Linked DNA regions of Homo sapiens: regions 1 and 3 are each linked to region 2. Evidence: fine-mapped expression QTL. A gene starts in region 2. Each other region holds a variant in brackets. All regions are shown on one strand. Distances are from middle to middle.

Region 1 (8,348 bases), 22 kb before region 2:
CTCCCTAGTTCTTGCCGAATGCCTGGGGATGGCCTCAACATCAGACAGGGAGGACTGGGGCTGCTGCTGGACCCCTAGGACCTGCCAGTTACCTCAAAGGCTCTGGCTCACGATACCAAGCCCTGAGCTGGGCCTGCACCAGAGGCCGGAGGCTGGTCTGCCCAAGCCGTCCACACATCCCCCTGTGTCCAGGCACCGGGCAGGAGAGATGCAGCTCATCCCACAGATCCTCACTGAGCTCCTGCTGTGAGCCAAGCTCTGGGCTACAGCACTGAGCAAAATAAAACCCCTGCCCTCGTGATGCTTAGCTTCTAGGGGAGGGAGATGATGAAAAGAAAAATAAACATAAAATATTTGATACACTAGTTGATAAGTGTTTCAGAAGAAAAGGAGGCAGGGAAGGAGGACTGGGAATTTAGGGAGGAGGTGGTCTGTGATTTTAAATAGAATGGGCCGTGAAGGCCTTGCTGAAAAGGGGAATTTCAGCAAAGGTGTAAAGGAGGTACAGGAAAGAGTCATGTAGGGCCAGGCGCGGTGGCTCACACCTGTAATCCCAGCACTTTATGGGAGGCTGAGGGAGGTGGATCACGTGAGGTCAGGGGTTCAAGACCAGCCTGGCCAACATGGTGAAACCTCATCTCTACTAAAAAATACAAAAATTAGCCGGGCGTGGTGGCATACATCTGTAATCCCAGCTACCCAGGAGGCTGAGGCGGGAAAACAGGAGAATTGCTTGAACCTGGGAGGTGGAGGTTGTGGTGAGCCAGGATTACACCACTGCATTCTAGCCTGGGTGATCGAGTGAGACTCCGTCTCAAGAAAAATAAACAAAAAAAAGAGTCATGCAGACATCTGGGGAGAGGCTTCTAGGCAGAGGGAACAGCAAGTGCAAAGGCCCCGAGGTGGGGCATGCCTGCTGTCTGCCTGCTGTCTGACAGTGAGGAGCTGTGAGGAAGCTGGTGGAGCTGAGGTGCAGTGAGAAGGGGGACGGGACAGGAGACAAGGGGAGGGACTCTGGGTTTTCCTCTGTCTGGGACAGGAGCCATTGCAGGATTCTGAGCAGAGGAGACATGAAGTCTGATGTAGGTTTTAATATTACTCTGGCTACTGCATGGAGAACAGATTTGCAAGAGGAAGGGGAAGTGCAGGGAGAGCTGCCGTAACCCAGGAGAGAGGGCGGTGCCTTGGCTTCTTTATGAGGCTCAGCCTGGGGCCCAGAGCTGGATTTGAGGACCAGCTGAGGTTAATGTCAGGACTTTCTTTGGGACTGGGATCAGAGGTCTGTCTGGAGAGAATACTAAGAGTCATGCTTGGCCTGGGCTTGTGTGGGGCCTGGCTAAGCACCAGTTTCCTTTATAAGAAGCTGAGCACGTGGCTATAAATAGGAGGCGCACGCAAGCACTTCCAGACCCGCACACGCTCCCACCAGGGCATGGCGGGTCTCTGAAAGACCATCAACCCCTCCCGCCTCTCGCAAGTGTCCCCACCACAGCCCAGCCTTCATCTTCTTGGGTTTCAGCCCTGGCCCTGCCTGTCCCTCAGCACCCCTGTACTAACCACTCACCCGCCCCCATTCTGACGCCTGTCCCCCTCCACCAAGCCCACGCAGCTTGGCAGGACAGCCACTGGGCTCTCCGTGAGCCAAATGGCTTTGTGGAGAATGGGAGGCAGCAGATGTTCCTGGGCAGCTTTTCCCTGGGTTTCCTGCCAGAGCAGAGGAACCACACTGGACGCTTCCATGTCCACTGACCTCAGTCCGCTGCCCAGCATAGCACGGGATAGCCTCGGACTTCAGCCAGGTTTGGCCCCAGGAAAGGGATAAGGGAGTGGCTGCCCAGGCCTTGGCTCCAGATTGGGCCCCTCCTTGGCCTAGAAAATGCAACGCCGGCTCAAAAACAGTTCTGCCTAATGCCACCAGCACTGGAGGCCAACATGGCTCTGAATCCACAGACCCATTGGGTTCACTGGGCTAAAGCTGGAAGCGGTTGTGAGAGTTTAGTCTCCTCGCACTTTACTGAGGAAGAGATCGGGGTTCACAATGGTTGCATGGCAGCTGGAGGGCCAAAGAAGAGGCCTGGTGAGCCCTTCCAGTCCTACCTCCCTGTGTAGTCAGGGTCACTGAGGCCCAGGCAGGCACGGGCCTGCCCAAGGCCATGCCCCATGCCCTAGAGCTCTTGCTGCCTCTCCAGGGTACAATTCCGCATGCTGCCAAATTTAGGGCCCACTGAGCCTGCCATGGAGCCCCCAAAGTGTTGGTAACAGAAGCTTAAATAGCAGACCACCCCTCCATTGCTACTTCTGGGAAAGGAGAGCCCAGACCATGGTGAGGGAAGGCTACTGAGAGCCCCAGGCTGGGGGCCCTTAAAATGCCCAGAGGACTCACAGCCACCCCCAGGAGGACAGGCCTGAGGTAGGGCATGAGGCTCCCTGCCCACCCAGACCTTCGCCTAGGGATGACAGGCAGTGGTCCTGAAGGTGCTTTTTCCTTAGAGTCCTAGCACCCACTCCTGCCTCTTCTGACGAGCAAGCCCAGACCCATGAGAGCCATTTCATAGGTGGGGGGAAATGGGCTCAGAAAGGGCACTTGCAGAGGGCTGTCCTGACTGGTCATGGTATGAACCAGGACTCAGGTTTCTGACCTCAGGCCCAGCTCTTCCACAAGGGAGGGGGTCAGGAGTGAGACCAGATGGAGATAGGGTTTAGCTGCACAATTACTCCTCTCTCTCCTGGCAAGGCTGCCAGTGAAGACCTGGCCCACAGGCCTTGTCACTCCTCTCTGGGCTCTGGAGAGGAGCTGGTGGGCTCAGGAACCCATTGGCCAACTTCTCTCTGGTGGAGCTGCTTGAAACACACAATTTTCGTGCAAGAAAATGGCTCTGCCAAAGAACAAAATGTTTGCTATCACACCGTGTGGCTCAGAAACCAGGGAATCCCATATGCTGTTCCAGGAGTGAGAACTGAAACATCCTCCTTAGCGCCCAACTTGGCGATATCTAGCCTCATTTAACAGGCACATACCCTTTGACCGAAGAATCCCACTTCCAGTAACTGATCCGACCAAGAGCTGCCCAAAGCTCCATCTGTTTCTGATAACACAAGACAAAAAACAATGTACACGTGTACAAGCAGGGAGCTGGTGAGAGAAGGGATGGTGCATTCGTGGAGAGGAGCATTATGCAGTCATTAAAAAGAAATTTCAAAACCCCATATATCCCAGTATGGAACAATTTCTAAGACGTGTGAAAAAAAAAGCAAGACAGAATAGTGTAAATAGTATGTTACCATTTGTGTATAAAAATGGGGGAGACACACACATACCCAAACATAGTTCTTTCTGAAAGAATATACAAGAAGCCAGTAATAGGGGCTGCCTCTGGAGAGGGCACTGGAGGTTGGAAAGCCACAGGTAGGAGGGAGACTTTGGGTTTTTTAAATCTTTATCAAGTGTATGTGTTAATTTGTATTTTTAATGACAGCCCCAGGAGCCCTGGGCTCCAGTCCCAGCTCTGGGCTGGAACTCCCAACTGCCCCAAGATACCTCTGGAGCCTGGGAAGGAGCGGGCAGGGAGGTGTGTGAGAGCAGTGGGGTGGGGAGAGGGCTGGGGATGAATTATTTACAGGCCC[C/G]TGGGACGCTGGAGCTAAGGGGGAAGTCCAGGCTCCTATAACAGGTGTCTGCTGAGGGGCGGGCCACTCCCAGCCACCTAATAAGTAATCCTCTGGGCCAGATGCCAGTGTGAATGGGTGGGAGGGAGAATGGGGAGCCCCCTCAGCTCTTCAGGGGTGAGCACAGAGGGGAAGAGCCTTGGGTAACTCACCGAAATGGGAGGCTTTCTCTCTCCAGTTTTGGGATGCGCAGAATGTCCCATCCATGTGGATTAGGCCACCATGAGAGGTAGCAAACTCCCGTCCCCTAATGCATGCACGGTACAGGCCAATGGCTCCCAGTGCCTGACCAGCAGCCTTGGAACTGCCTGGGAAGCTTTTTCACAGTGCAGATTCTGGCCCCAGAAATTCAAATTTAGTGGCGCTAGAATGGGTCTCAAAATTTGGTACTTGAATAGTTTTCCAGGTGACCCTAACGTGTGGTTGGTTGGGCTTTAGCTCCATAATTACTCCTCTCTGTCCTGGCAAGGCTGCCGGTGAAGACCTGGCCCACAGACCTTGTCACCCTTCTCTGGGCTCTGGAGAGGGGCTGTGGAGCCCAACAGAGGTACACTCTGTGACTCCAGAGGTGTCTCGGGGCAGTCAGGAGTTCCAGCCCAGAGCTCCTGGATGTCATTAAAACTAAACCTCTGGGGTTGTGGAGTGCAGCTGCTCACTGGCTGGGTAACCTAGGACAGTCTCCCCACCTCTCTGAGCCTCATTTTCTGTATTTGTAAAATGGGGAAAATTAATATTCTAATAATAGCCAACACATCCATGTGCTGGGCCCTTTGTATACATCTCTCAATGACCCGTGGAGTTGGGCAACTATCACTCTATTTTACAGATGAGAAAACTCAGGGTCAGAGAGGACCACGCATCAGGCAGGTGGGATTCAAAACCAGGTCTATCTGGCCTCAGAAACAGCAGTAGAACCTATCAATCAAATGGTACAAGGTTTCTTGTAGTTCTCTCCAACCCTGCGGCATACAGGGGCTCACTTGAGATAGATGGACAATGTCTAGCATGCAGGAGGTGCATGGGGAAGGGCAGATCTTACTCATTTCCAACAGTTGTGGGATGACCATCTGGCAGGAATGCCAGGGAATGGATCTGTGCAATGGGCGGTCTGCTAGAAATGACCGTTTACTTATAAGGTCCCTTCCAACTTGGAAACGTGAACCTCCCAATGTTTGTTGATTCTCTGATTGTGTTTGTTATTGTAGCTGAAAGAATTCTAAGACCAATTTCAGTCTGAGAGTCTAGACACTGGGCCTGCCCGGGGGGAGGATGGGGACAGGAGCCACAGTGGCCTGCAGTGGGGGCTCCCCATCCAGCCTGGGCCAGGCAAGGACAGAGTGTGGCCTCTGCTCCAGCACAATCAAATGGCCCCTAGGTCAGCACTTCCTTTGCCCTCTTCCTGCCGGGTGTGTGGCCCTGGTGGATGACCAGCTTTGGCCCCCCAAGGCCTGGACCACAAATCCAGCTCTGAAAACCTTTGTGACTCCTCCCTGGGTGGTCCAGCCCCAGCTGGCTGTGCTTCAAGATCCTAACCCCAACACACACATGCAAACAGGCATGCACGTCTGTACACACAAGGGCTTGCTGAAAATGCAGATTCCCAGGCCCCACTCCAGATCTACCACATCCTAATTTCTCTGTCATCTTTAACGAGGCCCCTGTGGATTCTAAACCACCAGCTAAAGTCAGTGGGTCCTGGTCCCAGTTCCATGCCATCTGTGTGGCCTAGAATTAGTTCCTCCTCTCCTCTGGGCATTGGTTTAGCCTGTGCACCAGTCCAAGTGCCCTCGAGACTCTGCAGTTTTGAGCCCTTTGTGCAGCTTTGAGCCTTCCCTTAAAGATCAGACCTCCTGGCCCCCCCTGCCACCTTGCTGCCTGCCACCCCAGGCAACCCCCACAGGGAGCACCTGCCCCACACGCCCTCCAGCCAAGTCCCTCAGAGACCCACACTGCATGCAGCAACAGGCGATGGGGAGCTCACCCGTGTCTGTGATGCCAGCCTAGGAATGACAAACGAAGGGCATAGGGCTTTTGGCAGGAGGGGGCTCAGGGGAGGTGGGAATAGGGTAGCCATAGAATGCTACTGCAAAGAGCCCCCTTTTCCAAGATAAGGAAGCAAGTCCAGAGAGCTTATAGGTCACTTGCTGTGGATGACTGCAAGGCCAATAGGCAAAGGAAAGGGTGGGAAAGAGGGGCTCAGGAGGACTGATCTCACCCCAGATAATACTTGTAGGAGCGCTGCAAGGGTGGCAGGCTGTGGGCCAGCTCAGAGGTGGTGGCACTTCTGGTGAGGGGCCTAAATTGTAGCAGCGTCACACTCTACTGAGGTTTGGGAAAGGCTGGGTGTTTGGGGCGAGCTTCTAGACCTTGCCTGGTGGCAGAGACCTGGACTGTGGTCCAGCCTGGTCATCTTAGTTGAAGGACTTGACAAGTGACTGAATTTCCCTGGGCTTTCCTTCCCCTGCCTGGGGAACAGAATGGCTGTGAGAGCAGTCTGGAAAGGGTAAAAAGCTATGGAGACAAAAAGGAGAAAACAGCTATTTGCAGAAGTGAGCATGTTGGTGGAGTCCCTCGTGAGAGAGAGGAATGTCGCCTAATGGGGAGCCATAGGGCCAAGAACACACTGACCTGGGAGTGGGGAGATCTGGCCGGCCCACCAGCTGGACATGTGATCCCTTATTTGGGCCTGTTTCCCCATCTGTACCACCAGGGGGAGGGCTCTCCACTGTGCCCTAACCTCACCAGCTCTACAATGGATGGATACCCTTCCTGGGACATCAGGCTTTCTGCCTGACCCACAGTTGGGTCCTTGTCTTGGCTGATCTGGCAGTCCCCGGCTGCTAATATCATGGTTCCTCACTCAAGCCCTGAGCAGGGATGAAGCTGGCATGGGAGCGGGGAAAGGGGGACAATGGCCAGGCCAGCCATTTTGGGAGTCCTACAGCCTTAGCCAGATTCTCCTCCCCACTGTCACCCTCCTTCCTAGTTAGAGTTCTTCATCATCTCTGCACCCTCCTCCTCCAGGGCCACCTTTGCATCATCTGCTGCCCTATCTTCTTCATCAAGGTCCACAATCTGACCCAGCTTTGGGAGGTAACAAAGAGGAAGGGACTTTAGAGTCAGACAGAGACCGGTGGCTCTCCCCCAGTCTGGCCATGTGCCAGTGGTATGTCCCCAGGCAAGTTGCTGGACCTCTTTGAGTTTCAGTTTATTTATCTTTAAAATGAAGACATGAATACTTTCTTTATATGGTAGTTATGGAGACCAAAGTAATAACCTACTTAACAAAGTACTTATTAATAAAAACTATGATGATGATGATGATACTACAGAGACAAAGAAGCTGAAAGAGGCAGGAGAGAGGCCAGGCGAGGTGGCTCATGCCTGTAATCCCAGCACTTTGGGAGGCTGAGGTGGGTGGATCACCTGAGGTCAGGAGTTCGAGACCAGCCTGACCAACATGATGAAACTCTGTCTCTACTAAAAATACAATAATTAGCTGGGCGTGGTGGCGTGTGCCTGTAATCCCAGCTACTCTGGAGGCTGAGGCAGGAGAATCGCTTGAATCCAGGAGGCGGACGTTGCAGTGAGCCGAGATTGCGCCATTGCAGTCCAGCCTGGGCGACAAGAGCAAAACTCCATCTCAGGAAAAAAAAAAAAAAGGCAGGAGAGATTCCTCAATGCAAGAACAAGGAGCTTATGCAGAATGGATTTCCATTCTGGGAACTCTTGAGAGAGATTTTTCTGCACTGTCCAATATGACAGCAACTAGCCACATTAATTAAATAAAATATAAAATTCTGTTTCTCAGTCACACTAGCTGTATTTCAAGTGTTCAACAGCCATGTGCAGCTGGTGGCTGCCTACTGGACAGCACAGATACAGAGCATTTCCATCCTGGCGGAAAGTCCTACTGGACAAACGCTGCTAGATCAAACTCCTACCAGGGTCCGGACGCCCACACTGCAGCACACGCCTACTAGCTGCAAAGCAGCCAGTTCTTGCATCTGCCACCCATTTATATCCTTCCTGAGTTTTTCCACAGGGGCACCCTGAGCCCAAGACAGCCATTTAAGATTTACAAACAGCAACTGCATCCCTTCAGGTCTTCTCTGAGGCCGAAGAACTTGAGGCCTCTCTGAACTGTTTCCTGGTGGAGTTTCCAGGCCACTGCCCCCCTGGCCATCTTCCACTAGACTAGTCTGAGAGTGAAGCCCTTGCTACTCCACTGTAGGTGTGGCTCCCGAAGTCTCACGTTCGAGGTGGGGCTGCAGTGAGGGGCTCTGCCTCCAGCCCCTTCCTACCCCTAGCTGGCTGTGTGACCTTGGTGAAGACCCTCCCCTTAGGCCTTGGCTCCCTGAATGCTCTTTGAGGGTAGGGCCATGCCATTTAGCTCACCAGCACCTATCACGTGCCTGACACACACAGTGAGTACTTGATGAATCCTTGGTGAATACATAAAACAAACCTGCTACTTCCTCTGCTTCTTTAACTCAATAAACAGCACCTCCATCCTCCAGCCATTCAGATCAAAAGCCAAGGTGGCACCTCTCAGTCCTGTCTCCCTTGCTCCCCAAGTCCACTCCAGCAGCTGGTGGCTCAGCCTCCAAAGCACAGCCTTCTGTCCATCTCCATTGCTCCTAAAGCTTAGTCCAGCCACTCATTTGATGGAGAAGAAATGTGCT
Region 2 (8,142 bases):
TGCACAAGTTCCTTTCCATCACTGGCCTCAGTCATACCGGCTGTGTAATGAGCATGTTGGTGAGCTTCCCTCCAGCCCTGATGGTGGACTTCTATGACAGCAGCTCTTGGTAACACCTGAGGATCAGTCACCTTTTTTTTTTTTTTTGAGATGGAGTTTCACTCTTGTTGCCCAGACTGGAGTGCAATGGCGCCATCTCAGCTCACCACAACGTCTGCCTCCCGGGTTCAAGCAATTCTCTGGCCTCAGCCTCCCGAGTAGCTGGGATTACAGGCATGCACCACCACACCCAGCTAATTTTGTATTTTTAGTGGAGACTGGGTTTCTCCATGTTGGCCAGGCTGGTCTCAAACTCCTGACCTCAGGTGATCCACCCACCTTGGCCTCCCAAAGTGCTGGGATTATAGACGTGAGCCACCGCGCCCAGCTGGATCAGTCACCTTTTGTGGCACTTTCTTGTTTTGCTCGAGGCTTGACAAAATGCCTGTGGGCATGGCTTATTCAGGTCTCTCCACAACCCTGTGAGGTAGGCACATGTGTCCCCATTTCACAGTTGAAGGTACTGAGGCTCAGAGAGCTCAGGTCATATCATCTCCCAGCGTCACATGGCTGGGAAGTGGTGGAGCTGGGTTGGAGCTGCCAACATCAGAGTCCAGACATTTAACTCTTGAGTGTGCCACCGTGCTGTGGGGGAAGGCAGTGTGGAACCCTAAGGCCCAGAGCCCCCCTCTCCCACTGTACCCCATCCCAGTCCACTTCAGGCAGGGCTCCCCACATTCCATGCTCTGCCCACCTACTCTCAGCCCAGGCTTCCCCAAGACAGCATTGTCCAAGGCTGGACTGGGTTCCCAGTATCTGTGTAGGTGTGAGGATGTTCATAGCTTGTCCTGTCCACAGTGGGGCTGGGGGCCATGCTGACCACCCCAGGGTGATGGTGCTGCACTGCCCATGTGCCCCGTCCATTGCCGCTGAAGGCAGAGTGCACAAGGGGAATCCAAGACCCAGAAAAGGGAGGCTCCGCCCAGGAAGACACAGTGATGGAATGCTGCTCGAATGAGGAAACTCACTATTTCAGTAATAGTGTACACTTAGTACACTTCGAGGCAATGTACTAAGTCCTTTGTACAAACCGAAGAGTCTTATGAATCAGTCTTTGACTTGTCTCCATTTTCCAGAGGAGGAAACCAAGGCCAGGAGTTTAAGTGACTTGCCTAAGCTCATGTAGCTTGAAACTGGAGCAGCTGGGATTCGAACCCAGCTCTATCTCTAGCTCTCCAACCTCCTCTGTCAATCATGACAATTTTGCCCCTTGGTGAGTGCCCTGGGTTGCTCCCTGTAGCTCTGCACCTCCCACCCATATCTCAGTTGAGAGGAGGAGTGACAGTCCTGGTGCCCACCAAGGGTTAATGGCAGTAGGGGCTAAGTAATTCCAGATGGGCCTCAGGACGGCTGGGCTGGCCGGAAACTGGAGGCCGCCAGCTTCCCAGGGGAGCCACCGCCAACTGCCCCTCCCCTTTGTGCTGCATCTCTGGCCCCAGCTGTACCCCTGCCCTAGGGCCCACCAGCCTCCTCTCCCTTGCTAGAGTCCAGCTCTAAGGGAAATTGCAGACGGACCATCCCAAGGGCCTTGTAGCACAGTGAGTCCACAACTGTTATGTACAAATAGGGAAACCGAGGCTCAGGCAGGGCAAGGGACTTATTCAAGTTCTCCTGATAAGTCTGTGGCTGGGTCTTCTGACTCCCAGACTAGCTTCTTTGGGGACTAGGGGGTTGGTGTGTCTCGTGGCCTCCCCCAGGCTGGCCTGGCTGCAGAGGGTCAGCCAAGGATTCAGAGGTGAATGGCCCAGGCAGATGCTAGGAGGGGAGTCGTAAATTTCTGACGGAATCTTTGGGCACAAGAAATCCCTGTGCAAGCCTGACCTTGTGGCCTGTGGGATCTTTTCACATTCCCCTATTTCCCTGTTGCCACAAAGACCTGGCCAGGCCCCCTCTCTCGGGGTACTCTTATGGTCCCCAACCCGTGGCTGGGAACCAGTCTGAGAACACTTCTCCTTCTATGTGGTCCAGCCCAGATGCTCTGCTGGGCAATCCCGATTGGGACTAGACCAAGAAATGCAAGATAGTTGACTGTGGTGGGCATGGAATCCCAGCTCACGCAAATCCTCTGCTCTGTGAACAGGGGTCTGGGGGAAGCTGAGGAGGAAAGACTTAGCGGCGCAGAGGGAAGGAGGGCAGAGCCAGCCTCTACCTGTGTCACCTGGGACAGCTTTCTTCACCCTCTGGAATTCAGTTGCCCTGTGGGTGCAGTAGTGGGAGCAGGGGTGGTAAGCCCACTCTATATGCCCTTCTAAAATAATGCCCTTTGCCATCTGAGGGCTAGGAGTCTGTAACTGGAGATGTCTTCTGATCTGAGAAGCTGAGGGTGGAAGAAGAGACCCAGCTGGGGGAACTGGAGGAGTCTTGGCAGACCCTGGTAGGAAAGGAGAGCCAGAGAATGGAAATGGAACAAAACGGATACTTGAAAGTATCTTGTTGAGGCTGGGTGCGGTGGCTCAAGCCTGTAATCCCAGCACTTTGGGAGGCTGAGGTGGGTGGATCATGAAGTCAGGGGTTTGAGACCAGCCTGGCCAACATAGTGAAACCCGGTCTCTACAAAAAATACAAAAATAGCCAGGTGTGGTGGTGTGCGCCTGTAATCCCAGCTACTTGGGAGTCTGAGGCAGGAGAGTCACTTGAACCTGGGAGGCGGAGGTTGCAGTGAGCCTAGACTGCGCCATTGCACTCCAGCCTGGGAGACAGAGCAAGACTCCATCTCAAAAAAAAAAAAAAAAAAAAAAAGAAAGTATCTTGTTGAGTGACTGAATGAAAGAGCCACAGGGGGAACCTAGGAAGAAAGCAGGGCAGGGGGTTCATCTACACTGGAATAGGGGTCTCGGGTGGGGGTCAGATGACTTGTGTCTCTTCCATCATGTGTCTCATGAGACCTAGTTCTGCCCCAGCTCTGCCATTGCTGCGTAAGCTTGGGAAGCTTATTTTGCTCCTCTGGGCCTCAGTGTCCCCATCTATAAAATGGGGCAAATAATCCTCTCCTTGCACCCCAGGGGCTTTGAGACGTGAAAAGGAATGTATCTGTCAATATCCAGAGATATCCAATCTGTGCTGGATGACCTTGACCAAATCACATTCCCTCTCTGTGCCAATTCACCCCTGGGCCTTGGTTTGTCCTTCTGAAAAACGGCTGATCATCTTGGAGGATCTTTCCATCTCCTCCATGTCACCTCTTCTCAGCAGTGCTCTCTGATTCTCTCAGGCTTCCGTTAGGGGTCCTTCTAAATGCACTCTCAGCCTCCTGTCTGCCGACCGGGCACCTGCTTGCCCAATGAATATCTTGCTCACTAGCCTGGTGCTTCTGAGGTCAGGACCACGTCTTGCTACTGTCCCCTGCACCCAGTACAGTGTTAGAATGTAGTAAATGCTCAGTATGCTTGTTCAATGAATGAAGGTTGACTGAATCAACCACAGAGATGATCAGAGTCTCCTTTACAGATGGGGAAACTGAGGCACTGAGAAATGATCTCCCTGGGTGCCATGGCAAGGGGAGGCCGCCACCCGACATGGGCATCGGGAAAGTGGGGCCGAGGCCACTCTTTGACAAAAGTGACTCAGCAGCTGGCGGCTGGCGTGGGCTGTGGAATTTCTAAGCATCCCCTCACATCCTGAGCGAACGGGCGATGGGAGGGAGTAAGCAGAGTGAAAAGAAGAAAAACAAGAAACTTGGGGGAAAAGAAAGAGAGAGGGGGAAAAAAACTGAAATTGAAAACAGACGCACGCGTCCACCCTCCCTGCCCCGCCGCCCCCCCTTCTCCCAGCTGGGCCAATCAGAAGCCACCCTGCAGCCTTTCCCCCAAAGTGGCGGGGGAAGTGGGGGGGCATGGAAGCCCATAGTGGTGTGAGCTCCTGAGGCTGCCAGCAGCCAGCAGTGACTGCCCGCCCTATCTGGGACCCAGGATCGCTCTGTGAGCAACTTGGAGCCAGAGAGGAGATCAACAAGGAGGAGGAGAGAGCCGGCCCCTCAGCCCTGCTGCCCAGCAGCAGCCTGTGCTCGCCCTGCCCAACGCAGACAGCCAGACCCAGGGCGGCCCCTCTGGCGGCTCTGCTCCTCCCGAAGGATGCTTGGGGAGTGAGGCGAAGCTGGGCCGCTCCTCTCCCCTACAGCAGCCCCCTTCCTCCATCCCTCTGTTCTCCTGAGCCTTCAGGAGCCTGCACCAGTCCTGCCTGTCCTTCTACTCAGCTGTTACCCACTCTGGGACCAGCAGTCTTTCTGATAACTGGGAGAGGGCAGTAAGGAGGACTTCCTGGAGGGGGTGACTGTCCAGAGCCTGGAACTGTGCCCACACCAGAAGCCATCAGCAGCAAGGTAAGTGCTGGAAAAAGTGGGAACCCCAGCCCCATGCCCTGTCCCTTTGCCCTAACCTGCATCTCTTCGAGTAGGTAAAAAAAAAAAAAAAAAAAAAAAGGGAAGATATTTTTAACAAAACAAGATGAGAGGAGGCTGGGAGACTGTGGGTGATGTCAGGGATGGAGGAGCCAGTTTTCTCCTTTCCCCTGCTCTGGGGTGAGTGGCCTCCACCTCATCATCCCTGCTGCTCCTGCCTTCATCAAACAATCCTCAGGGGTTTCTGGGTGCTGACTGGGGGCCTCCAAAGCACAGCACAGTCAATGGGGAGTGGGGAGAGCTGGGAAGAGCGGGAGAGGGGAATTGGGAGAAGGTAGGCAGGGTACACAGAAAGCAGGGGACTGGGGACCTCAGGACCATAGCCGCTGTTCCTTGGCCCAAGCCTTGTTTCTAAGAATCAGTCTGGCTTTAGGCCAGTCAGCCGCCAGGCAACCTCTGGGGATTTAAATGGATTTGCAAATTTTCTAGATTCTTAAGATATCCTTCTAAACCCCCAGCAGCTAGAAAAGTTTGAGGGCTAGGAAAGTTCGAGGGTGATGGGCGGCCATGGCAACCCCCTAGCGGTCATGCTGCTGGGTCTGGGGGCTGGGACCTGGCTGTCAGATCTGGGGGCTCCTCTGTGAAGAAGGGGTCAGCCACTGGGCCATTTCCTTTGGTCCCAGGCAGCTGCTCAGGCCTCCTCGTTGTCTCCCTCCTTCTGGACTCTACCCCTTCTCCATGCCATTCTAAAGCATAAATCCAATCACACCACCTCCCTGCCCAGGATCCGCCTATGGCTCCCCAGTGCCTGGAGAAAGTCCCAGCTCCTAACAGAGGCTGCCACTGCTTGACACTTACTGCACGCCGCAACTGTGCTGAGTGCTTTATGAGACTGATCTCATGTAATGCTCACCAGCAACCCCAGAGGCAGTGACTGTTTTTACCTCCGTTTTATACATGAGGAACTTGAGGCTCACGCAGCCACATAACTGTAGCCACACAGCTAGTAAGTGGCACAGCCTGGAGAGGTTGGAATCTCCCCGTGCCCCATTACTCCAAACTTGGGCCTTTTGTTCCCGCCAGTCAGATCCCAGAATTCCCAGAAGGAATGCGCACCATCCTGCTTGTGGGCATTTGCCCTCCCTCTTCCCCCTTTCTGGAATGCCCTTCCTCATCACTTTTCTTTCAGGGATATTCCATACACCACCTCTTCCAGGCAGCCTTCCTAGGTTCTTCCTGTCTTCCAAGTGCTAGCCATGCACTTTGTGCTGAAGCCATGTTACTTGGCCCTCCCCTGTTGGTGATCTGTTTATGTTCTGTTTGTTCATCAGAGATTGTTCAGGCCCCAGCAGTCAGAACTGAGGCCGCACTTTCTGCTGGGGAAAGGTTTAAGGTTTCCCCATCCTGTGCTCTTCCCCCAGTGCCCAGCCCTGGATAGGCAGTGCGGCTGAAAAAATGTCCTGGTGAAAGGGAGGAGGAGCTCACTGAAGACCTTCTGCTCCCAAGTGTGAGACTAGAACCCAGGCCTCCAGCCTTCTCACAGGTGCCCTTCCAGGACATCGTGTGGCTACTCCAGGCAGCATTCCTCCATTGCAAGCAGGGAGGAGTATCTCTGCTTCCCTCTGTGACCTCCCAATTGCACAGAGGCCTCTAGTGACAAGTTCTGAAGTCATGCAGTCCTCCCCTGTCTCCAAGCAGGAGACCCTGAATCCACAGCCTTCAGGGACATACAGTCCCTGAACACCTACCTCATGCAGGCATAGAGCCTGGTACTTCACACACCTTGGAGTCCTCATGGCAAGTTTTTGAAATCAGTGTTATTACCTACTTTTTGTAGATGAGGAAGCTGAGATCTGGAGAGGCTAAGTGACTTTCCCAGGGCCATACGGTGAGTTAAGGTGGTGTTTAGGCTGAAGTCTGCCTGACTCTAAAGGCTTACCTCGTGCTCCCCGGGAAGCTCCCAGTCAGAGGGAAGAATCTCCATCCTCCTGCAGAGCCTGCTCCTGGCTTCAGCACCTTCCCCAGCAGAAAGTGCAGCCTCAGGTCTGACTGCTCCAAGGTCTGCCCGGGCCCTGGCTTGGTCTTGAGAGAGGAAAGAGACCATCTGGTCAGCACCCTCCTCCCAGACAGCAGTTATCAGCAGCCCCCCTCCTCTGCGGGAAGAAGAGCTGGGACTTATAATTGCCCACACATGTGGGGCAGGCAGTGGAAAGCACCGTGGATCCAGAGTCAGGAGACCCAGTGCTTGCCCTGGCTTGATTTAAATCCACCGTGTGGCCAACCTCAGACCCCCCACATCCCATCTCTGGGCTCCTTCCGCAGCTGGGAGGCAGTGAGCGCTGTGGGTAACCAGCACCAGGCTTGGGCATCAGATGACTATGCATTGACCCCGAGTCAGTTTCTGGCTGACTGTGTGACCCCGGGGCAGCACCTTGCCTCTCTGGGCCTCAATCTCCTTCTCTGTGAGCAGCAGGACCGTGTGTGGGCTCCATGAGACAACAGCATTGGCAAGGTGCTTACCACAGTTCCTGCACTTCACAGCTGGACCTCTGGCCACTGGCTGAGAGAACCACTGCTCTCCTGGCCTCCTGCATTGGAACACTTGGCTGTGAAATTAATCTGCAACCTGCAAAAGGCTCTGCCCACAGAAGGGACCTGGACACCATGTATGTTCCAAAGATCCGTGTCCATCCTCCAGGCACAGGCCACAGTCTGACTCTGAGACCAGCTGCCTTCTAGGCTAAAGGAGGGTGCTCTGGGCATTGGCTCAGAACAGGCTGCTGCTGAATGCAGTGGGAAGGGAGAAAGGGATGAAAAGGTCTTCTGAAATGCCCACCCATTTCTTGCATTTGATTCAGAACCCAGTGGGCAGTGGGTTCTTGGAATGGGAATCTTTTTGGTGCCCCCTGTCTTCTGACCCAGAGCGTTAGGAGGGAAGGGAAGGGGTGTTGGGCCCCTTCCCAGGGTCAGGGCTTGTAGCACCTCAGCTGGGAAGCAGTGTGAGCATGATGATATAACAGGAACCAACTCGTTCTTAGCACTTTCTGTGTCTACTTCAATTGTGCTTTACATCTGTTACCTCAAAGTTGCTGCTGTATTCCTCAGCACTTGGAACATGCTGGGCATTCAGGACATTCTTAGTAAATATTTACTGGATTAATTTAACCATCGAGGCTGGGCACGGTGGCTCACACATGTAATCCCAGCACTTTGGGAGGCCGAGGCGGGTGGATCACCCGAGGTCTGGAGTTTGAGACCAGCCTGGCCAACATGGTGAAACCCTGTCTCTACTAAAAATACAAAAATTAGCCAGACGTGGTGGTGCGCACCTGTATCCCAGCTACTCAGGAGGCTGAGGCACTAGAATTGCTTGAATCCAGGAGGCGGAGATTGCAGTGAGCCTAAGCGACAGGGCAAGACTGTCTCAAAAAAAATAAATAAATAAATAAATAAACCGTCACAGCAACCTCAAAATTAGATATATAAACTCTCCCCACTTTTTTTTTTTTTTTTTTTTGAGATGGAGTCTCACTCTGTTGCCCAGGCTGGAGTGCAATGGTATGATCTTGGCTCACCGCAACCTCCGCTTCCCAAGCTCAAGTGATTCTCCTGCCTCAGCCTCCCAAGTAGCTGGGATTACAGGCGTGTGCGCCACCATGCCCAGCTAATTTTTATATTTTTAGTACAGATGGGGTTTCACCGTGTTG
Region 3 (8,000 bases), 270 kb after region 2:
AAACATCCTCATATCTTATAGCTTTTTCTTACCAAAAGCAGTTTTTGCCCTCTTGTATAATTGCTTATAGAATTGTTTCCCTTATTATTTTATTAATAATATATTAATTATTAGTTATTAATATATTATAAATAACATATTAATTATGTGTTAAGAATTCTAAATAAAGAAATATATATTAATATATGTTAATATATCCTTATATTAATTAGAATTCTTAACCCTTAGTGACCTTAATTTCCAGTGAACACTAGGAAGCAAGCAAAAATTGTGAACTGTCTGTCACACCAGCAATCTGTAGATCAATCGTCTGTGAATAATAATTTCTAGAAGCATGTAGTTCCCCATAGTACAATCTGTCACTGTGGCACAGAAAATTTTTAGTAACAGTCCCAAATATTTTTAGTCTCTTGGTAATAAGAAATTGTAGAGGAGGCAACATTTAATCTCTATCCTCTTAGATCTTTTTTTACTTTTGAGATATGATCTTGCTCTGTCACACAGGCTGGAGTGCAGTGCTGAGAACACACGGCTCACTGCAGCCTTGACCTCCTGGGCTCAAGCGATCCTCCCACCTCACCCTCCCACATGTTAGGTTTTGAAGGGAAGGCGAGGGTTAAAGAAAGACACACACACACACACACACAGAAAGAGGGCGGCTCAAGAGCAAATGCAGGCTTTACGCCCAGCATAAAATCTACAGAAGTAGGAACCAGCCTAATGCCAGAGCCCACCGCTGCTTACAGGCTGGTGGTACTTATAGGTATGGGCGGGAGGGGTCTGGGCAGTATGGCTTGTTGCCTGGCAGGCTATTGATAAGATGTTCTCATGATGAGGCGGTTTTGCTTTTGTCTCGGTGGGATGCCATTGTGGTGTTTCTTGGACTTTTGCCCAGCAAGATATGATAGGAATGTTTCTTTAGTTGGGCCTTTGTCTGCCTTGTGGTCAGGTGGTTAGGAAGGCTGTTTCTCCCGACCCAAACCCCCATGAAATGTTTCACTTTGACCAAGGTCTGCAAAATAATGGGGAGCTTACAAAATGGTGCAGTTGGGACTAACACCAGGTAGCCGAGACCACAGGTATGTGCCACCATGTCCACATAAATTTTTAGTTTTGTAGAGACAGGGTCTGGCTGTGTTGCCTAAGCTGATCTTGAATTCTTAGGCTCAAGTGGTCCTCCTACCTTGGCCTCCCAAAGTGCTGCCATGTGTGACCTGCCATGCCTGGCCCTGTCTTATTTTTTGTTTCTTTCATCTTGACTATTCTATGCACCTCATATACAGTGAGGTGAAATCATACAGTATTCGTCCTTTCGTGTCTGGCATATTTCACTTAACATAACATTTTTGAGGCTTATCCATGATACAATTTTGTGGCTGCATAGTGTTCTATTGTTGGACTTGGAAGTCTTTTCAATCTTTCACTATTACAAACAGTGCCACAATATCCTTGGATGGACTTATCTTTGTGTATTTGTGTTCGTATTTTTCACTGAGAGGGTTCGGAGACTTTTATGTTTTATTTCAAGTTATTTCCCCATCCAGATCATGATGCAAATCCCTGCCCTTCCTCAACATCATCCCTTCCCCCTTGGCTGAAATGGTCAGGCCAGAGTAGGTGCTAGGGCCCGGAAGCAGGAATTCTGACCAGGCTACCTTAAAGGGTGACAGGAACACCACTTAGAGTGATTGCTTTCATAAAGTCAGCATCAGCTCTCCAGAGCACTTTCCCACATTTGGTTTCAACACCCAGCATCAACAAGGAGTTAAGTGTCTGGCAAAATCCCAGGGAAGGATTCCTCCAGGCTGTGCTTAAACCAGTAGACCACGTTTGGAAGATTTGCTTTACCAGCCTGGCCATGTTCAGAAACTCTCCAAATCCTAAAACCTGACTTCTACAAGTTTCTCAAAATTCATCTGATCCAATATGCTCGACCCTCATTATGGAGATTGGGCTACCGAGGTTCAGAGGGAGATGAGACCAGCTAAGGTCAACTCAGAAATAGGGTGACCAGTTGTTCCCATTTACCTGGGACTTTCCCCATTCTAGCACTGAAAGTCCCATATCCAAAAAACCCCTCAGCCCTGGGCAGTCCTCTGGTCAGCCTCTGGAGCCAGGATACAGCCAAGATCAGACCCATGAGTTTTTTAGTTCTGGGCCCTCCTCCTTACACCCGCCTTTTCAGCCCTGCTTCCAGCCCCTACACAAAAGGAATGATTTGCACTCTGATTGCCCTTCCAGACGGGAAAGCTGAAGCGCTACTTCACGGACCTAGAGGCCTTGGCCATGGTCACTGCTGCTTTCTGCCATGACATTGACCACAGAGGCACCAATAACCTCTACCAGATGAAGTGAGTCAGCCTCCCTCCCCACACCCAACCCTCCGGATTCATTATCCAGCTCTGTGTGGCTCCCAGGCAGACTCACTGGCCAACAGGGAAGTCTTGTGGTCCACAGCTTCCCACCGCCTTCTGCCCTTGGGATCCGGGTCTCCTCCTGTAGCAGGCAGAATAATGACCACCACAAAGATGTCCAGATCTCAAATCCCTGAGCTGGGGAATATGTTGCCTTACATACAAAAGGGACTGTGCAGATGTGATTAAGTCGAGGATCTTGAGATACAGGGATTATTCATTCGAGTGGGCCCCATGTAGTCCCAATGGTCCTTATAAGAGGGAAGCAAGAGGTCAGAGAGGAAAGAAGATGCTACCCTGCTGGCTTTGAAGATGGAGGCATGGCCTACAAGCAAGGAATGCAGGTGGCCTCTAGAAGCTCAAAAGAGCAAGGAAACGGATTCTCCTCTGGAGCTTCCAGAAGGAAAGCAGCCCTAAGGACCCATTTCAGACTCCATACAGAGCTGTAAAATAATAAATTTTATTGCTTTAAGCCATTAAGTTTGTGGCAGTTTGTTATAGCAGCCATAGAAAATGAATGCATTAAACTCCTGTACTTGTCTCCTTCCTTGTCCTACCTGCTGCACTAATTTGAGCCAAGATGTTAATAACCAGTAATGGTTCATTCACTCATCTCGTATTTACAGTGCTTCTAATATAGTGTGGTAGGCTCTATGCCAGGCAAAAAAGGTGCTCTGATGAGCAAAACAGCTCCTGTCCTTACAGAGCTTATATTTCAGACAGCCCATAAAGCATAGTCCTTGAACCATGATCTCATTGGATCCTCACAACCACCCAGTGGGCTGGGCAGAGCAGGGGCTAATGTTATCCCTACTTACAGATGAGAAAACTGAGTCTCCGCTCAGGGCCGATGGCCTGTAAGTCATTAACAAGCTCTGAATTCATGCTGCTGAGTCTTCTCAATACTTTCATGCTGCTCTGGGGCTAGAGATTGGGTTTACATTTTACATTTTGAGAATCTAAATACTTAGCACAGTGTGTGGCACATAGCAAGTGCTCAACAAATAATTATTGAATGCAGAAATGAATAAATACACGGCTTGCGGAAATTCAGTTGTTTCCTTCAAGACTTGGATGTGAAGAATCAGGGCTAGATGATCTTGAAGCATGGCCCAGTGCTAATGTCCCTAAAATCCCTTATGGCATTGTGTGTGTTTGTGGCTTTCTCTGGGGAAGGGGTCCATGCTATTTAGTAGATTCTCTAATGAGTTCACGACCCAAAAGTAACTCGGAATCACTTGTGGAGAAGGCTGAAGACTGAGTCAGGAGACTTGATGTTTAGTCCTAATTTTCTATTGTCCACTCCATATTGATTCTCTCTCTTTCTCATTCAGATCCCAGAACCCACTGGCCAAGCTCCATGGGTCCTCTATCTTGGAAAGACACCACTTGGAGTTTGGCAAAACACTGCTCAGAGACGAGGTAGGATGAGGGCCAAGGGTCTACAGGCCGCGGGGCCTGGATCAGAGGCTCTATTTCACAAGGAGCCTGAGTGTGCCCAGGGAGCATTCTTCCCATTGGCCTGGGCTGCCTCTGCCATCATCTGGGGTGGCCATTGGTAGGTGGGTGACTTTACTGCCAGCATCAATTCTCTCCCATCTCGCTTCTCTTTTTTTCTTTAGAGCCTGAATATCTTTCAAAACCTCAATCGTCGACAGCATGAGCATGCCATCCACATGATGGACATTGCAATCATTGCCACAGACCTCGCCCTGTATTTCAAGTTGGTATATCTTCTCATTCTAATAGTAAAAGCAACAATGATTATATGTATGCATATATATATATACACACATATATATACATATATACACATATATATACACACATATATACATATATACACATATATACACACATATATATACATATATACACATATATACATATATACACATATATACATATATACACATATATACACATATATACATATATATACACATATATATACACATATATCTACACATATATATGTGTGTGTGTATATATATATATAT[A/T]TTTTTTTTTTTTCTTTTTTGAGACAGGATCTCACTCTGTTGCCCAGGCTAGAGTGCGGTGGCACCATCACAGCTCACTGCTTCCTGGGCTCAAGGGATCCTCCCACCTCAGCCTCCTGAGTGGCTGGGACTACAGGAACACCACCACTCCTGGATAATTTTTTAATTTGCTGTAAAGATGGGTTCTCACTATGTTACCCAGGCTGATCTAAAACTCCTGGTCTCAAGCCATCCTTCTGCCTCAGCCTCCCAAAGTATTGGGATTACAGGCATGAGCCACTGCACCCAGCAACAATATAATAACAATAATAATAACAAACATCATAGTTCCAATTAATTTAGCATATACTATGTGTCAGGCACAACACGTGTGTTATGGACACATTGATTCTTGCTACAAGCCTGTGAGTTAGATATCATTACCCCCGCTGTACAGATGGGAACACTGAGATTCAGGACAAGAGATTTGCTAAGAGTAGATAACAAATCAGTGGCAGAGACTTAGGTTAAACCTAGGTCTTCACTCCTGGGCCTTGGCTCTTTCAACCTTGTTTTGTGAATTTTGTTGATTTAATAAGGCTCCATCTGAATCAGCCAATGTTAGCAGCTCAGGTGTTGCCTTATTCTAAGACTTGCTCCCTTTACTAGACTGATATGTTTTGTAGGAAGAGGACGATGTTCCAAAAGATCGTGGATCAGTCTAAGACATATGAGAGTGAACAGGAGTGGACACAGTACATGATGCTGGAGCAGACACGGAAGGAAATCGTTATGTGAGTTGGGATGGGGTTAAAACCTGATCCTCTTAGGCTTAGGATCATGAGGCGAGATGCACTGACAGCTCTTGCTGCCCTCAACAAGCCTTGGGACTATTTCATTTTGGAGGCCTTCAACATATGAAAAAAATGAAGTTATGCCAAATTCCAATTGCACAAGCCACATGTTTAATCTTTATTTTAGCACTAAAAATGCAAGACAGTGTATTATTGTTTTATTTATCTGAATAAAAAAATATGTTATTTGAAGTAGTTCAATCATAATATCTAAGATTTGGGTGGTAAACTGATATAACTTTTAAGTTTTTGATACAACGGAAAGCACTATAGCAATTAAGGGGTTTTTGTTTTGTTTTGTTTTTTGTTTTGAGACAGAGTCTCGCTCTGTCGCCCAGGCTGGAGTGTAGTGGTGCGATCTCGGCTTACTGCAACTTCCGCCTCCCAGGTTCAAGCAATTCTCCTGCCTCAGCCTGCCTAGTAGCTGGGATTACAGTCACCCACCACCACGCCCAGCTAATTTTTGTATTTTTAGTCGAGACCGGGTTTTGCCATGTTGCCTAGGCTGGTTTTAAACTCCTGACCTCAAGTGATACACCCACCTCTGTCTCTCAAAGTGCTGGGATTATAGGCGTGAGCCATCATGCCCGGCCCGAATTAAAGTTTGAGTGATAGTTAATGTGTTATTCAAAACATATAGGCTTAATTTTTAACGTATTCCTTTACATAGGACAATATCCCACAATATAGCTGTGCTAGTCACAAATTGGTTATGGTTGGTATGAAATTTACAGTGCATGGTCTGGCATGGTTGGTAATGGGACTCAAATTTAAGTTGTCTGGTGAATGTCTTTTTTCAGTTTTCTCAGTGTGCTTCCATGATTCACCTCAATTGACAATGGGGTGAGAAGTGTAAATTTGAGGCCTTTTATGAATATGTGGCCCAAGCCAAATGGTCCCCTGGCTCCTCTGTGATGGGTCCTGGGCATTGAAGGCAATGGTCAGGAAAAGTTGCAGGGGAGACAAGGCTGACTAGTTGCCTAGGAAGCATTGGGTTATTTGTTTATCCCCAGATGCTTCTGTGGAAATGAGGCTTGATTAAGTCACAAGCATTGCAAATGTCTGCAACAGAGAAGAGGAGACCACTGGGACAGGCTCCGGAAACGGGGGGGGCAGCAGCAAGTTGCCACTCCTTCAGCCCTGCAGTTGTCCAACCAGGCCTCCCACAAAGGTCCCCTGATTCTGGGAGCAGTGCAATCTGCTTTCACTGAACAAGGGGGCATGCTCAGCCCACAGTTACTCATAGACTGGCCAGGAGCTGCCCCCCTGGACATTTTATTTATTTATTTATTTATTTATTTATTTATTTATTTATTTTTGAGACAGGGTCTTGCTCTATTGCCCAGGCTGGAGTGCAGTGGCGATCAGGGCTCACTGCAGCCTCAACCTTCCAGGCTCAAGCAATCCCCTCACCTCAGCCTCCTTAGTAGTTGGGACTACAGGCACACGCACTATACCTGGCTAATTTTTGTAATTTTGGTAGAAACAGGTTTTGCCATGTTGCCTAGGCTGGTTTTGAACTCCTGAGCTTAAGCCATCCACCCTCCTTGGCCTCCCAAAGTGTTGAGATTACAAGTGTGAGCCACCACGTCCAGCCACATTTATTTATTTATAATTTCAACTTTTATTATACATTAAAGAATGCATGGGCAGGTTTGTTACATGGGTATATTGTGTGACACTGAGGTTTGGGGTACAAACGATCCTCACGCAGGTAGTGAGCATAGCACTCAGTATGTGGTTTTCTGGCCCACACTCTCCTCCGTCTCCCCTTGTGTAGTCCCCAGTATCTATTGTTGACATCTTTGTGTCCATGTATATGTAATGTTTATCTCACACCTGTAAGTGAGAATATGCAGTATTTGGTTTTCCATTCTTGTGTTAATTTGCTTAAGATAATGGCCTCCAACACCATCCCTGTTGCTGCAAAGGCTATGATTTTGTTCTTTTTTATGGCTGTGTAGTATTCCATGGCACGTATGGAACACATTTTCTTTATCTAATCCACCGTTGATGAGCACCTAGGTTGATTCCATGTTTTGCTATTGTGAATAGTGCTGTGATGAACATGTTAGGGCATGTGTCTTTTTGGTAGAACTCTTTGTTTTCTTTTGGATACACACCCAGTAATGAGATGTTGGGTCGAATGGTAATTCTACTTGAAGTTCTTTGAGGAAACTCCAAACTGCTTTCCACAGTGGCTGAACTAGTTTACATTCTCACCAGCAGTGCATAAGGATTCCTTTTTCTCCACAGCCTTACCAGCATCTGTTATGTTTTGATTTTTCTTTTCTTTTCTTTTTTCTGAGACGGTGTCTCACTCTGTCACCCAGGCTGGAGTACAGCAGCACGATCTCGGCTCACTGCAACCTGCACCTCCTGGGTTCAAGCAATTCTCGTGCCTCAGCCTCCACAGTAGCTGGGACTACAGGCACCCGCCACCATTCCCAGCTAAATTTTTTTGTATTTTTTGGTAGAGACGGGGTTTCACCATGTTGGCTAGATTGGTCTCAAACTCCTGACCTCAAGTGATCTGCCTGTCTCAGCCTTCCAAAGTACCCAGCCTTCTTTTGACTTTTTAATAATTGCCATTGTGACTGGTGCCAGACAGTATCTCATTTTGGTTATTTATTTATTGACTTTTGCTTGTGCTTTTCTTTTTTTGAGATGGAGTCTCGCTCTGTTGCCCAGGATGGAATGCAATCTCGGCTCACTGCAACTTCCACTTCCCGAGTTCAAGGGCTTCTCCTGCC

Alleles and levels. Alleles are on the strand shown, and positions count from the first base shown. SD is a standard deviation of normalised expression in the study named. Not every link is listed here.
In carriers of allele A in region 3, the expression in monocytes after LPS of the gene that starts at base 3,969 in region 2 tends to be higher than with T alone (large effect, 1.4 SD a copy in Kim-Hellmuth 2017).

Evidence for each region.
Region 1: its variant is fine-mapped to the expression of PDGFRB in lymphoblastoid cells (TwinsUK, PIP 0.95).
Region 3: its variant is fine-mapped to the expression of PDGFRB in monocytes after LPS (Kim-Hellmuth 2017, PIP 0.95).

The regions. Positions count from the first base shown.
Region 1 is chr5:150,173,754-150,182,101 of GRCh38, reverse strand. The region is part of intron 1 of CDX1 (caudal type homeobox 1); the gene reads right to left. Among named protein-coding and RNA genes, the nearest start is that of CDX1, 11 kb to the right of the region's middle. The variant C/G (reference allele first, on the strand shown) is at 3,625.
Region 2 is chr5:150,151,672-150,159,813 of GRCh38, reverse strand. PDGFRB (platelet derived growth factor receptor beta) reads left to right here and starts at 3,969. Exons shown (of 23, transcript NM_002609.4): 1 at 3,969-4,417. RefSeq lists enhancers at 1,263-2,051, 6,209-6,728, 6,729-7,249.
Region 3 is chr5:149,880,616-149,888,615 of GRCh38, reverse strand. PDE6A (phosphodiesterase 6A) reads left to right here. Exons shown (of 22, transcript NM_000440.3): 14 at 2,242-2,351; 15 at 3,749-3,836; 16 at 4,037-4,137; 17 at 5,080-5,187. Among named protein-coding and RNA genes, the nearest start is that of PDE6A, 60 kb to the left of the region's middle. The variant A/T (reference allele first, on the strand shown) is at 4,415.